Linked DNA regions of Homo sapiens: region 1 is linked to region 2. A link means that fine-mapping ties the variant in region 2 to the expression of a gene that starts in the linked region. Tissue or cell type: whole blood. Region 2 holds a variant in brackets; the other region holds the start of a gene. All regions are shown on one strand. Distances are from middle to middle.

Region 1 (8,107 bases), 400 kb before region 2:
AGTTCAATTAAAGTACAGGGATACTAGATGGTGAAATGAAGTCTCTTAATATGGAAGTTATCAAAGATCAGATGCTTGAAAATCAAGCGTGTGGAGGTTAACCAGCATCTGGAGAAGTAAATGAAAATACAGTTAATAAGAGAGTCCCCAAGATATTAATTATCATTTATGCAAAGGAGATAATTTCTCTCATTGAATCCCTGGAGGCAATTCAACTTCCTACTGTGGCTGGTATTTCTTTTCTGAGCCAGAGGATCTTACAGCAAAACATGATATTTGTGCAACTTTTGCAATGACAGCTGCCATTTAATATACTCCCCTTAGATTTGTTTCCATTTTAAAAAACTGATATATATTCTTTAATAAGTGATTTATCTTTGCATATATATTTTATATCAATCACATTTAGAGTAAGAATCACAGTTATTAATGCTTTATGTGTAACAACTGAATCATCAGCTCCTGAAATAAGTATTAATGATATTCTCATTTCAGAGGTGAGGAAACTTAGGACAGATAAGCAAAATAATCAAATTAGGCTGGGCACAGTGGCTCATGCCTGTAATCCCAGCACTTTGGGAGGCCGAGGCGGGGGGATCACCTGAGGTCAGGAATTCGAGACCAGCCTGATCAACATGGTGAAACCCCGTCTCTACTAAAAATACAAAAATTAGCTGGGTGTGATGGCGGGCGCCTGTAATCCCAGCTATTCGGGAGGCTGAGGCAGGAGAATTGCTTGAGCCTGGGAGGCGGATGTTGCAGTTAGCCGAGTTCCCACCATTGCACTCCAGTCTCAGTGACAGAGCGGGACTCCATCTCTCTCTCTCTCTCTCTCTCTCTTTCTCTCTCTCTCTCTCTCTCTCTCTCTCTATATATATATATATATATATATATATATATATATATATATTTAGAAAATGGGTAGAACTATGAAGAGACATTTCACTGAAGCAGTTATACTGAGATAAATAGGCACATAAAAAGATTTCCAACATCACCATCCATCAAATCTCAGATCTCAGCATATTCTGCTTTAAAAGACTCATCTTGTCACATTTCAGTAAGAGGCAGAATCGAGATTTGAATCCATGTTGTCTGGTTGCAAAGACAAAGCTTTTAATGATGATGCTACAGTAACAATGCTAGTTATTTTTGTCCTTTACTCACCATCTATACCTATTTTGTTAGTATCTCTTGTAATTTTTAAATGGTTTATCTTCATATATCATTGTGATTGTGGTAACTTTGTATTAAATCTATATTTTTATAGATCAATTAAGTCTATATTTTATAGATCACTATTGCGTATGCATCTTACCTAAATGAATGACAGAGACACTCATTACCACATAATCCTGTAAGAACGATTATCCAATCTTTCGAAGGAGGCATCCAGTACCTGAGGTGTTAGTTCTAGTGGTGGCCAGGCGCTGTAGCTCACCCCTGTAATCCCAGCACTTTGGGAGGCCAAGGGGGGTGGATCTCCTGAGGTCAGGAATTGGAGACCAGCCTGGCCAACATGGTGAAAACCCATCTCTACTAAAAATACAAAAAATAGCTGGGTGTGGTGGCGCGTGCGTGTGGTTGAAGCTACTCAAGAGGCTGAGGCAGGAGAATCGCTTGAGCCTGGGAGGTAGAGGTTACAGTAAGCTGAGATCACACCACCGCACTCCAGCCTGGGTGACAGAACAAGACTCTGTCTCAAAAAAAAAAAAAAATCACTAATAATGACAAAGTGCATATTTCTTGAGCTGAGAATATTTTTGTATCTGTGTTTCCATTGTTCGTTTCCAAAAACAATTACAGGTTGCTAATACACATCAACTGGACTGTTCAGTAGAAGCTCCTGTGTTTCTCATGATCTCTGACAGCATCCAGGGGTTCACATGGAGAAAGCAGAATATGCTGAGGTCTGAGATTTGATGGATGGTGATGTTGGAAATCTTTTTATGTGCCCATTTATCTCAGTATATCTGCTTCAGTGAAATGTCTCTTCATAGTTCTATCCATTTTCTAATTTGATTATTTTGCTTTTTTTTTAAGTCGTTCTAGGATTCTTTATACATTCCACATACCAGTTTTATGTCAGATATATGGTAGGCAAATATTTTCTATTATTCAGTACTGTATTAGTCCATTTTCACACTGCCTAAACCCTCCTGTGACAACCTGAGACTGGGTAATTTATAAACAAAAGAGGTTTAATTGACTCACAGTTCCGCATGGCTAGGGAGCCCTCAGGAAACTTACAATCATAGAGGAAGGCAAAGGCGAAGCAAGGCACGTCTTGCTTGCAGCAGGAGAGAGAGCGATCAAAGGAGGAACTATCACAGATTTTTAAACCATGAGATCTCCTGAGAGCTCACTATCATGAGAACGGCTTGGGGAAAACCACCCCCATGATCCAGTCACCTCCCACCAGGTCCCTCCCTCAACACCTGAGGTTTATACTTGAAAATGAGATTTGATGGGGACACTGAGCCAAACCATATCAAATACCTTTTCTTTCATCGTCTGAAGGTCTTTCACAGACCAAAAGTTTTTAATTTGGTAAATACCAGTTGATTTTTTTTTTCTTTAATGAATCATGCTTTTGCTGCTATGGCTAAGAATTTTTGAACAAGCTCTTGATTCTTACGATTTTATTGTGAGTAATTTTTTCTTTCAGTCTCCTACAGGATACCATTTTATGGTTTGATATTTTACATTTAGGCTATGGTCAATGTTGAACTAATGTCTGTACGGTTGTGAAGTTTGAGTAGAGATGACTTCTTTCCTGCTGTGGATATTAAGTTAGCCCCTCACCAGTTTTTAAAAATTCTTCATTCAATTCCCTTGGTAACTTTGTCAAAAATCAGTTGGAAGTACCTGTAGAGGCTATTTTTGTACTCTCTTACTGTATTGCATCAATCCATATGTCTTTTATTGCCCCAAAACCACACAGTTTTTATTACCTTTCCTATATTGGTAGTCTTGAAATCCAGTGGAGTGATTCCAGACACTTCATTTTTGTTTTTTGGTAACTTTTATGGATCCAATCACTGCTAGTTTTGGATTCCCCACCGAAATCCCAGTTCCCGGACTGCTAAGCTGCAGGAGACTCCCTAGCAGGATCGGGTCCAACCTGCAGGCAAAATAGTTTTAACATAAACCGTTTTCAACTTGGTAAGTGGAAAACATTTTGGTTTCCACCATAAGTGGCCCACACAACTCTGATTTTTTTACCTTAAAGCGGCGCAGACCCCGCCCACTCCAGCCATTCCTTCAGGCTGCCCGGGCTCTTCTCTCCGCGCATGCGCAGTTTCCTACAGGCCCGGAAACGGATCGCGTTGGGTGAAGGTGACGGCGTCGAGCGTGAGTGACCCTCTGTGTAGATTAAACCTGCGCTCCCTGTTTCCCATTTCCACAGCCGATGTCCAGGGTCGATACGGCCCTTAAAATCCCCGTACACTCCACCCCAGGTGAATACAGGCCTCGCAGTGTGGGTCCGGAGTCGCTTCCCTTTGGGTTGAAGTCGCTTTGAGGCTGCTCCCCGTCCCCGGCCTTTTGCTTCTTCCTCCCGCTTAAAACCTTTTCCTGACCCCCTCCCCCATCCCCGGGCTTTTTAAAGTCTTCACCCAAGAGGTGTATTCCCGTCCTGGGTGCCTCCCAGCCTTGCCCTCGTCGGCCCCTGGAGCGCAGCGCCGCAGCTGCAGCCGCAGTCCCGGGGAGCCTTGCGTCCTCTGCCTGGTCCTGGGATCCTGCAGACCCCACCCCTGTCTGAAGGCGCTGTCGCGCCCCACCTCCCTCCTCCTCGTGCCGGGCCCCGCTGCTCCCCAGGCCTCCCCTGAGCCCGCGCTGGGGAGGTGCTCAGGGCCTGTCCTGTGACACCCGATGTTCTTGCCTGCCCTCCTCCACCCCGTGGAAAATGCGCTCCTCCAGGATGCAGGCGTCTTACCCCAAACCGTCCTGTGAATGTGTGGGCCAAAGGGATCGAGGGACAGAGAGAGCAGTAGAAAACCTGAGACAGGAAGGAATGAGGCAAACCAATAAACAGATGGCAAAGTAGAGGATGGTTAGAGATTTTCAGAGACAGTAAGAGTGGAAGAAGAAGCCGAGAAAGTAGCAGGGAGAGAAAAGTAACTAGACACATTTCGAGAAAAAGCACAGTATCCAGAGAGATGAAGGACAGCCAGGTAGGGAGAGGGGCAGCAAAGGAGGAGGCTCCTCAGACAGAGAGTGGGGGAGAGCAGAAGGGATTTGGAGCCAGGGCAGACAGGGCAGTGTGGTACCGGGACAGCAAGAGGGGGCAGCCGATGACAAGGAGAAGCAGAGGGAGAACCACAGCACGGGGAGGCCTGGGATCTGGGGGTGCCAAAGAGTGGGGACAACGGTGTGTAACAGGGAAGAGGGAATTTAACAGGGAGTGCTGAAATGGGGAAGAAAGAGCCAGAAATATGTGGAGACTGGGACAATGAAAAGATTAGGAAGAAAGAGGAATTAAATACATTGCAAGAATGGAAAGAGCAAGTGGAAGAGAAAGAATAGAGGGAAGACGGGGAGGAGCAGCAGGAGAGGAGAGGGGCTCAAAATGAGCAGAATCCTAGGGAGAAAATAAAGGGGAAGGAAAGAGCTAGAGAAAGAAGGTGAGAATGAGAGCGATGTACGGAACGAGGGAGGGAAACACACCATAATGAGGAAAGAGGGGGACCCCAGGTCCAGGTGAGTTGTGAACTGACTGGATGTGATGACTACCTTTTGACCTGTTGATTTCTGTCTTTATAAGTTTAAAATGCACAGATGATGAGAATTGCAAAGCTCCTGTCTATTAAGGCTGGTGCATTTTATAATTATGGCATCAGAAGTTAGCTTCCACTTGCAATCCCTGTTAAGGCAGAGGGAAGTGACTTGACTCATTAATTCCACAGGTCATCCTCTTCCCCTTCCCTGGCGTTGGGGCAGGGGGAGGGGAAGGGGGAGTGGGAGAGTAAAGCTGGGCAGAAAGTGAAAGACTGTCACTACATAGTGTCTCTCTAAAGCAGGGGTGTCCAATCTTTTGGCTTCCCTGGGCCACATTGGAAGAAGAATTGTCTTGGGCCACACATAAAGTACACTAACACTAACAATAGCTGATGAGCTAAAAAAAAAAAAAAAAAAAAAAAAAAAAGTTGCAAGAAAATCTCAAAATGTTTTAAGGAAGTTTAGGAATTTGTGTTGGGCTGCATTCAAAGCCTTCCTGGGCTGCGGATTGGACAACGTTGCTCAAAAGGAACATTAAAAGTGTTGAGGCTGGGCATGGTGGCTCATGCCTGTAATCCCAGCACTTTGGGAGGCCGAGGTGGGTGAATCACAAGGTCAGTAGTTCAAGACCAGCCTGGCAAAGATGGTGAAACCCCATCTCTACTAAAAATACAAAACTTAGCCAGGTATGGTGACACGCATCTGTAATCCCAGCTACTCAGGAGGCTGAGGCAAAGCATTGTGTAAACCCGGGAGGCGGAGGTTGCAGTGAGCCAAGAGCCGAGATCCGGTGACAGAGCAAGACTGCGTCTGAAAAAAAAACAAAGAACAAACAAAAAAAGTGTTGTTGCTTTTTGTAATTGATTTGCTTTTTTTCTTACTAATTCCCTTTCATCTCATGTATAGTTCATTTTGCAACTTGAGATAGATCTTCATTAATTCAGTTTCTATTTTTCTGTATATAATTATTTCCAAAGTAACTTTGGTGGCATCCTATAATCAGCTCATGGCATTTTCTAAATATAATGTGTTTTCAATTTTTTTAGCTCCAAAATTCATCAGATATTTCTTAACAATTTCAAAATCTTTCCCTTTGAAATTAATTGTGTCCAGTTTTGATAGAGGTCTGCATGCTTTCTGCTCTTTATTATATAATAGAAGCATTATTTGTTGACTAGTAGGTAATTTTAGATTGTTTCAATGTGTACCTGATAAAGATGTCAATGATGTTTTTACCTTAACATGGAAACCTAGTTTAACTAGTCTATTATTCAATTTTCTTCTTTTGTGTAATTTGTTAAAATAGTAAGCTGTGAGCTGCATTTGGAACCAATGTGATAAAACCTTGAAGAAGTTTCTTTTGCTCAGATATGTGAAAGAGGGTCTGGGAATTTTCTTTTTTTCTTTTCTTTTTTTTTTTTTTTGTGAGCTGGAGTCTTGCTCTCTCACCCAGGCTGGAGTACAGTGGTGCAATCTCGGCTCACTGCAACCTCCGCCTCCCGGGTTCAAGCGATTCTCCTGCCTCAGCCTCCTGAGTAGCTGGGATTACAGGCACAGGCCACCACACCCGGCTAACTTTTGTGTTTTTTGATAGAGATGAGCTTTCATCATGTTGGCCAGGCTGGTCTCAAACTCCTGGCCTCAAGTAATCTCCCCTCCTTCAGCCTCGAAGTGCTGGGATTACAGGCACGAGCCAACATGCCTGGCCAGTCCTGGAATTTTCTAAGGGAGATGTGATAAAGGCAAACACAGCCCATTGGCCCTTCCAGGTCGTGACATCATAATTCAGCCACATCTCCTCCTTCTCACTCAACTCAGACCTCTCAGGATAACTTGGTGAAATGACTCCCTCTCTCAGCCTCAGTGAGCCCACCTGTAACAGAGATAAGGGACTAGACCAGAAAACCTCAATGTGAGCAACACTGACTCCTGAAATTTGGGGCAAAATTGGGTGTGCATTTGTGTTTGGCAGTTGTATGTGGGGGGACTAGCCAGTTGCAATTAAAATTTTTATTTGGATTTCTTCCTCTAAAAATGAAAACAAGAATGTGAAGCAGGGACTCAGACACAGAGACCATCTTCGGGGCCTTTCTCTGTATGAGGACATCACAGAGAAATCTAAAGCAGGTCACGTCAGTCCCTGGCAGGGAACCCTCCACCAGCTTCCTGTGTTCCCCAGGACAAAAGCCCAACTCCTCACTGTGGCTCCACAGCCCTGTGTCCAGGGCCCCTGCCAGTGTCCAGCCTCCTCCTGGGAGCTTGCCCTCATCTCATGACTCCCTCTGCACCAGTCACATTTGCTTTTCTCTTTTCCCAAATGTCAAAACCCTTCCTGTCACGGGTCGTTGTCCCTGCTTTTACCCTATGTCCCTAAATGATCGTGACCCTGTCCCTTTTTCCTCCTTCGGGTCTAGACTGAGAGATGTCTCCCGTGCCCTCCCACCCCCATCTGAAATTCTCTCTGCCCGTCACTCTCTATCACATTATTCAGGTTTCACTGTCTCCGCATCCATCACCACATCGGACACTCTTCTGCGTGGATTATTTTGAGTGTTTTGTGTCTCCCTCCATTGGAGGACACAGTCTCCATCTGGGCCACGGGATGACTGCAGCACCTGCTCCGGGGTTGTGGTTCAGATGCTGGGGCTGGGGTTGGGCTGAAGACTCCTCAGGGAAGACCAAAAGGACAGGGCGGGTAGTGAGGATGGTCTCATATTCTGGAAATTTCATCTGTAATTGGTCTAAACTTCCTGTGGCTATTTATTCCAGTCTATGTAAGAGCAGAAGGCCTCACTGAGGCCTGAAAAGCCCCGCAGACCCTGTGTCCTCAGCCAGTGCCGAGGCGTCCCCACCGCCTTACTCCAGCTCCCGGGTCTTCCACGCTCTACACATCAGCGGGGCCCAGTGGCCATCCTGGGCAGGGGCTTTGCCTTCCAGCAGGTGATGCGCTCACAGTCAGGGGTCCTGGATTCCCTTCAGGAAGGGTGGCGAGAAGTTCAGAAGCTAAACGGGCCATGAAGGAGGCACTCCCTAAACAGCGGGGGAATTTGGCAGGGGACTGTGAGTGGAGAGACAAGGGGACAATGGCAGCCTCCCTCATGAGATCTGGGGCCTCTCTTTTTCTTGGACATCCTCCGTCAGCTCAGTCCAGCCAATCTTCACCTGCCTTTAAACTGGATTCCATGGTGTCCCCAAATTGGGGGCAATTCCTTCCAGCATGGCCAACTTCTAGAATCTAGACTTGAGGCCCACTGTCCTGCAGATAGCAGTTTGTGTCCATTCCTGCTTTTGTCCAGAGGCCCTTTTGCCTTTCAGCCTAGTGTGCTCTTCATGCATGGAAGAGAAGTAGAAAAATGAGGGAAAGTGAAGAAGCATTCTTGGAGGTGTC
Region 2 (8,107 bases):
GGGCCGGAGGTTTACCCTGGTCTTGGAGGCGGGGCCTGAAATGGGGTGTTGTTCTTAAGGGCGGGGCCTGGCAGCGATGCGTCGGGGCTCTCTCCTCAGCTGGGTCCATGATGTGGCCTGCTGTCATCCTCTTGATCTCCAGCACTCGATCCCCCGGGTTCTGATTGGTGGATTGTTTCTGATGTGCCGTCATATTACCCCTAATATCACAGGGAGGCTTCCTGCCCGTTTTCAGTTAACATTTCAAACAATCGAAGGTAAAATAACATTTGGTAGTGGGCCATTTTGTACTGAATGCTGAATCGTTTTTTCTCCCAAGTTGAAAATGGTTTTAAGGCAAAGTGCCTTTTTTGAGCAGGTGGAGTCGCGCGTCCTGCAGGCGGGGCAAGCTCCCCTCAGGCTGGGACAGGTTGGGGTACAGGGGCAGGTACCTCGGTAAAGGGGTGGAGTGGGGCGCTGCTTACAACGGGGACTGATAATTTGAATGGCTTAGTAAACCAAGCAAGGTCCTGGGTTGTTTGAGCGGATAATGAAAGTAGAAAGGTGACATATAGAACTGCCTATTATACACAGAAGGTGGAAGAAAATTTCTTATTTCATGGAAATAAAGCCAGAACTCCGAGCGGTGGGTCACACCTGTCATCCCAGCACTTTGAGAGGCCAATGCCGGAGGATTGCTTGAGCCCAGGAGTGTGTGATCAGCCTGAGCAACATAGTGAGACCTCGTCTCTACTAAAAATAAAAAAACTCAGCCAGGTGTGGTGGTGCACACCTGTGTTCTCGGCTGCTTTGGGCACTGAGATTGAAACATCACTTGAGCCAGGGAGTTGGACGCTGCACTGATCCCTGATCTCACTAGCACACTCTAACCTGGATGACAGAGCTGGACCCTGTCTCAAACAAACAAGCAAATAAGTGAGAGGCATAATTCCTCCTTCGAAAATAAAGTAAGAGATTTTCTTTCCTGTAGACTCTTTTCTTAGGACATTTATTTAGAAAATGTGTAAATGAATTTTCTCTGTCTTCTGAAACAGTATTTTTTTTTTTTTGAGATGGAGTTTCGCTCTTGTAGCCCACGCTGGAGTGGAATGGCGTGATCTCCGCTCGCGGCATCCTCTGTCTCCCAGGTTCAAGAGATTCTCCTGCCTCAGCTTCCCGAGTAGCTGGGATTGCAGGCATGTGCCACCATGCCCAGTTAATTTCGTATTTTTAATAGAGAAGGGTTTTTTCCATGTTGGTCAGGCTGGCCTCAAACTACGACCTCAGGCGATCCGCCCGCCTCTGCCTCCCAAAGTGCTGGGATTACAGGCGTGAGCCACCGCGCTCGGACAGAAATGGAATTTTTTTAGAAACTAACTAAACCGCTTTTTAGCTTAATGACCCAGGAATGTATTTCCGAAGGACTTGGGAGCTCTGTCTGAAAGGCAAACAACAGAGATAGCACTTGTGTCTCAGTAGGAAATTAAGTAATTCAAATATCAAGTGATTCCAATTTAAAGCCATGGACCTTTAAATAATTCTGAGCCTTGAGAGGAATGTGGTCATGCAACCTGAGTTCAGAGGAATGCAGGCGCAACTTCTAGGAGTTTTTCTGTAAATAATTTGGAAAACTGGCCGTGAACAGTGGGTCACGCCTGTCATCCCAGCACTTTGGGAGACTGATTCTGGCAGATCACGAGGTCAAGAGATAGAGATTATACTGGCCAACATGGTGAAATCTCATCCCTAAAAAAAATACAAAAATCAGCTGGGCATGTTGGTGCTTGCCTGTAGTACCATCTATTCGGGAGGCTGAGCCACGAGAATTACTTGAACCAGGGAGTCGGAGGTTGCAGTGAGCCGAGATTGCACCACTGCACTCCAGCCTGGTGACAGAGCGAGACTCCATCTCAAAATAAATAAATAAATAACAATAACAATAAAAAAATTAGGAAGACTACAGAGCCCCAGTGATAAGACCTCCTCAGAGCATTGTCCCTTCTTATGTAATGATAAAGTAACTTTCCTTGAAGTGTATCAAATCATCACCAGTCAAGTTGCTGCAGCCTGTGCACTGGTCTTGAATGGAAAGTGTGGTGATTCTGCTAAAGCTTCTCTGTCTTTCCCTGTGTGTGAAACCTTAACGTCTCTACTTGGGAACGCTGATCCCATTCATTTGGAGTTGATGTTTCCAGGTGGCTTTCTTCAAGCTCTGTGTTCACATTAACTCTGTACTTAATCATATACTTTAAATTTTATTATTTACTGCTGACATCAGTGTCTGTCGTATGGTAGGAGCCTCACCAGAGAGGGCACCTGTCGCCATGTTGTAAAACTCACACTTGCCAAAAAGACATGGGTTAGAGTTTCTCCCCCTCCCTCAGGATGACGCTAGTTAGCTGACACAGATGGTCACCTCCATTACCAAGTAGAGCCAGGATGAACTATGTGTGACCAAGGGTGTTGTCAAGTCCTCTTCCTTGAGGACTGATTAGTATTTATCTTGAAAATATGTCCTTAATGGGTTGTATAGAACAGTGAAGTTTCTTTCTCTCTTTTCAATCTTTTAGCTGTTTGCCTCTATTTCCCATCACATTCTGGTCTAAGGTTTATTTATTAATAAAATGGTTTTTATTTCTTTCTCTGTTATCGTCGTGGAGATGATTTCTCATTTGGGAGGAGACTTTTTAGTTTTCAGTTATATTTTGTCAACATTTAAAAAGCGAAGCAAAGAATATTTCTGCGGCATGGCACGGTGGCTCACGCCTGTAATCTCAGCAGTTTGGGAGGCGGAGGCGGGTGGATCACGAGGTCTAGAGATCGAGACCATCCTGGCCAACATGGTGAAACACCGTCTCTACTAAAAAAAAATACAAAAAAAAAAAAACCCAAAAAAATTAGCCAGGCGTGGTAGCGGGAGCCTGTGGTCCCAGCTACTCCGGAGGCTGAGGCAGGAGAATGGCGTGAACCCGGGAGGCGGAGCTTGCAGTGAGTCGAGATTGCGCCACTGCACTCCAGCCTGGGCGACAGAGTGAGACTCCGTTTAAAAAAAAAAAAAAAAAAAAAAAGAATATTTCTGGCCGGGCGCGGTGGCTCACGCCTGTAATCCCAGCACTTTGGGAGGCCGACGCGGGCGGATCACAAGGTCAGGAGATAGAGACCGTCCTGGCTAACTCGATGAAATCCCATCTCTACTAAAAATACAAAAAATTAGCCAGGCATGTTGGCTCACGCCGTAACCCCAGCACTTTAGGAGGCTGAGGCAGGCAAATAACTTGGAGTGAGGAGTCCGATACCGGCCTGGTCAACATGGTCAACCCCGTCTCTACTAAAAATACAAAAATTAGCCTGGCATGGTGGCGCACGCCTGTAATGCCAGCTGTTCCCAAGGCTGGGGCAGGAGAATCGCTTGAACCCAGGAGGCAGAGGATGCATTTAGTCGAGATCTCGCCACTGCACTCCAGCCTGGGCAACAGAGAAATACTCTGTCTCAAAAATAATAATAATAATAATAATAATAATAATAATAATACAAGAAAGTAATAGATCTCTTCCATAAATGTGCTAGGACAACTATCTGGATATCCACATGGAAAAGAATAATGTTGGATCCCTATGTCACACAATCAAAAATTTTATTTGCGAAAGTTTTTTTTAAAAAAAAAGAGAGAGAGAGAGACAAGAAAGGGAGACCGCGGCAGTGGGCGTTATTTTGTCGCTCAGGCTGGCTTGGAACCCGAGGCTCAGGGATCCTCCCGCCGCTGCTTCCTGAGTAGCTGGGACCTCAGGCTCCCGCCCCCGCGCCTCTGCTGTCTTTAAGCAGCAGGTGGTGACCTCACTCCTTCTCGGCCTGAGCACTCCGTCCGGCATTCCAGGCGGTGGCTTCAGGGAAGTCTCTGAAGCTGAGCACAGGGCGGAGTCTCCTTCCGGAGTGAATGGACAATAGAAAGGGAGAGGATATCTATCTGTTCTGTGGGACCTCAGCATGACATGGTACATACCGCCCAGGCAGGGCTTTGCATTTCACATTCTAGTTTGTATCCCTGTTCCAGACAATTACAGTGTAGCAGGACGAGTCGCAGACAAAACCTCTCAGACACCGAGTTGTAGAAGGAAGGGCTTTATTCAGCTGGGAGCATTGGCAAGCTACTGCCTTAAAATCCAAGCTCCCCGAGTGCACAATTTCTGTCCCTTTTAAGGGCTCACAACACTAAAGATTTCAGATGAAAGGATAGTGACTGATTGAGCAAGCAAGGGATACGTGACAGGGGCTGCATGCACCGGTGATCAGGGAGAGAGAGAACAGGGCAGGAGTTTCACCGTGTTCTTCTATACAATGTCTGGAATCTATGCCTAACATCAGCTTCTAAATCATAAGTTGATTTTTAACTACTGGGTTTAGGCCAGGCGGATCCAGGCCTGGTTTCGGGCCTGGCGCGGGGCTGCCTGTCTTTGGTTTTACTTCCTGTTGTTTTTACTGACTATAAAACAATATAAAACAATGTCAGAGGGTCTCTCTCTTCTCTCAACAGGGCTTTTGTATCATGCCTCAGACTTTCTGGCGCTCTCGCCTCCAAAACCTGAAAACAGAGACGCTGGGAGCGAGGCTGAGAGACGCGCAGATCCCGCCCCGGCCCTGCCCTCTGC[C/G]GGTTCTAAAAGGCAAGGTCTCTCCGCCTCGCGCCCCGCCCCTACCTCGCCCAGGCCCCGCCTACCTCCCACTTCCCGCCCAGGCCTGGCTTTTGTCCTGCGCGCGCAGATTAACGCAAACCCGGAAGCGGATCGGGTGGAGTGTAGGTCATATCGCCGCGGTGAGTTTTGCTCTGTGTTGTATTAAGTCTGCGCTAACTAGGTTCCCAGGGCTTCTGTCCCTGGGACGTGGGGTCCCCACAGACCTGGAAATTCTCCGGCGTCTTCCTTTGCCCAGAGCAAATTGAGACATCCCCGTGAGAGCCCGAGGGTCGCTTCCTTTTGGGTTTAAAGTCGTCCTGAGGCTGGTCTCGTCCCCGGTCTTTCTGCTATAGGTCAATGTATACACTTTCTGTTGCGTAGTTTTCCTGCTGAAAACCTTGTTCTGACTCCTCGCGCCCCGCGCTTTTTAAAGTCTTCACCCGCGATGTGGATTCTTGCCCAGGGCGCCTCCCAGCCTCCCCCTCCTCAGCCCCGGGAGCGCCGCGCCGCAGCCCCAGTCCCGGGGAGGCCGAGTCCTCTGCCAGGTCCTGGGATCCTGCAGACCCCATCCTGGTCCTAAGGCGCCGTCGCGCCCCCCCCCCCCGCCCCGCACCTTCCTCCTCATGCCGGGGCCTGCTGCTCCCCAGGTCTCCCCTCCGCAGTCACCGCTTTCATTGAACCTGCACTGGGGAGGTCCCAGGGGCCTGTCCTGCGGCACGGGGTATTCTTGCCTGCGGAGCTCCAGGGCGTGGAAAATGCGCTCCTCCGGGATGCAGGCGTCTTACTCCAAACCGTGTTGCGATTGTGTGGGCCAAAGGAATCAGGAGACAGAGAGCAGTAGAAAACCTGAGGCAGAGAAAAGAAGAATAAGAAAGGCCCATAACAGATGGCAAAATAGAGGATTGGTGAGGGATATGCCAAGAGATGGCAGAAGTGAAAAAAAAAAAAAAAAACCTAAGAAAGCAGGAGGAGAAAAGCAACCGGAGAAATGTAGAGAAAGGCTAGATAGATGTACAGAGAGATGAAGGATCACAAGGTAGGGGGAGTGGCAGCAAAGAGGGAGACTCATCAGAGTGAGGGAGAGAGGGAAGGATTTGGAGCCAGGGCAGACAGAGCAGAGTGGTGCTTGTGTCAAGGAGAACAGAGGGAGAACCACAGCAGAGAGGACAGCTGGGATCTGGGGAGACACAGAGTGGGGACAAGGGAGTATATCGGGGAAGATGGAATTTAACAGGGAGAGCAGAGGAGGCGCAGAGATGGGAGAAGAGGCAGAAATAGATGGAGATTGAGGACGATTGAAAGATTGGGGAGAAGGAGCAATAAGAGGTTAAATAAGTTGTGAGGATGGAGGAGAAGAGGTGGAAGAGAAGGAATAAAGGGAAGAAGGGGATGAATAGCAGGAGAGGAGAGGGGTACAAAATGAAGAGCAGAATCCCAGGGAAAAAGAAAAGAAAACAAGAGCTAGAGAGAGAAGGGGAGAATGAGAGATATGTACAGAATTAGGGAGGGAAGCACAGTAATGAAGAAAGAGGGTCTGGACACAGTGGCTCACGCCTGTAGTCTGTAGTCTCCACACTTTAGGAGACTGAGGCAAGGGGATTGCTTGAGTCCAGGAGTTCGAGACCAGCTTGGGCAACATAGTGAGACCTCCCCCCCGCCAAAAAAGTAAGTAAATAACCGGGCATAATGGTGTGCACCTGTACTCCCAGCTGCTCTGGTGGCCAAGCTGGGAGGATGACTTGAGCCCAGGAGGTCCAGGCTGCAGTGAGCTGAGATCATGTGACTACACTGCAGCCTGGTCGTCAGAGCGAGACCTTGTCTCCAAACAAAAAAAAAGGGGCGAGAGACTGGGTTCAGATGAGTGGGTGAGTTCATTGGATATGATTGGTTGTGACATGTTGAGTTCTGTATATATAATCTAATAACTAAAAACTTGTTTAAATTACACAGATGAGATTGAGAATTTTAAAATTCGTATCTATAAGACATGTACATTCTATAAATCTTGGCATCAGAGGTTATGTTCCACTTGGAATCCCTATTTGCCAGAGGGCAGTCACTTATTCAGTTGTGAATCACTGTCTCCCCTTTTCCTAGGATGGGGTAGGACGTGGGTCAGTGAAGTGGGAAAATAGTCACTGTCTGTTGTTACAAAATACATTTAATTAATTAATTAATTAATATTTTGAGACAGGGTCTGACTCTATCACCCAGGCTGGTGTGCAGTGGCGTGATCTCCTCTAACTGCAGCCTCGACCTCTTAAGTTCAAGCCATCCTCCTTCCTCAGCCTTCTGAGTAGCTGAGACCAGAGGCATGAGCCACCAAGCCCGGCTAGTTTTTGTATTTTTTTTTTTTTTTGTAGAAACGGAGTTTCACTATGTTTCCTAGGCTGGTCTCAAAATCCTGGGCTCAAAGGATCCTCCTGCCTTGGCCTCCCAAATTACTGGGATTACGGGTGGGATTACAGGGAGGAGCCACCGTGTCTGGCCTACTTAGCCCTCAATACATTGAGTTATTCTGAATAACTCAATAACTCAATACTGTGAGTTATTCAGAATAACTCAATACTGTGAGTTATTCTGAATAACTCAATACTGTGAGTTATTCTGAATAACTCAATACTGTGAGTTATTCTGAATAACTCAATACTGTGAGTTATTCTGAATAACTCAATACTGTGAGTTATTCTGAATAACTCAATACTGTGAGTTATTCAGAATAACTCAATACTGTGAGTTATTCAGAATAACTCAATACTGTGAGTTATTCAGAATAACTCAATACTGTGAGTTATTCAGAATAACTCAATACTGTGAGTTATTCAGAATAACTCAATACTGTGAGTTATTCTGTTTTCTTTTTTCTTTTTTGAGATGGAGTTTTGCTCTGTCACCCAGGCTGGAGTGCAGTGGCACGATCTCAGCTCACTGCAAGCTCCGCCTCCCGGGTTCACGCCATTCTCCTGCCTCAGCCTCCGGAGTAGCTGGGAGTACAGGCTCCTGTCACCACTACCAGCTAATTTTTTGTATTATTAGTAGAGACAGGATTTCACCGTGTTAGCCAGGATGGTCTCAATCTCCTGACCTCGTGATCCGCCCGCCTCAGCCTCCCAAAGTGCTGGGATTACAGGCGTGAGCCACCCGCCCGGCCATTTTTTTTTCTTTTTTTGAGAGGGAATTTTGCTCTTGTTGCCAAGGCTGGAGTGCGATGGCATGATCTCAGCTCACCACAACCTTGGCTTCCTAGCATCAAGCGATTCTACTGCCTCAGCCTCCTGAATAGCTGGGATTACAGGCATGCACCACCACGCTCGGCTAATTTTGTGTTTTTAGTAGAGACAGGGTTTCTTCATGTTGATCCAGGCTGGTCTCTAACTCCCGACCTGAGGTGATCCACCTGCCTCGGCCTCCCAAAGTGCTGGGATTACGGGCGTAAGCCACCACGCCTAGCCCATAGTAG

Evidence for each region. PIP is the estimated chance that this variant, and not a neighbour inherited with it, causes the effect.
Region 1: ZNF415 starts here. The variant in region 2 is fine-mapped to the expression of ZNF415 in whole blood (TOPMed, PIP 0.95).

What each region holds. Positions count from the first base shown.
Region 1 is chr19:53,128,103-53,136,209 of GRCh38, reverse strand. It overlaps ZNF415 (zinc finger protein 415), which reads left to right and starts at 3,300. Exons shown (of 4, transcript NM_018355.4): 1 at 3,300-3,354. ZNF347 (zinc finger protein 347) reads left to right here. Exons shown (of 5, transcript NM_032584.3): 5 at 1-1,275.
Region 2 is chr19:52,731,681-52,739,787 of GRCh38, reverse strand. ZNF611 (zinc finger protein 611) reads left to right here and starts at 4,744. Exons shown (of 6, transcript NM_001161499.2): 1 at 4,744-4,787. LOC124904760 (a long non-coding RNA gene) reads right to left here and starts at 5,757. Exons shown (of 2, transcript XR_007067328.1): 1 at 5,328-5,757; 2 at 4,084-4,994. RefSeq lists enhancers at 4,329-4,458, 3,771-4,756 and a silencer at 4,639-4,708. The variant C/G (reference allele first, on the strand shown) is at 4,627.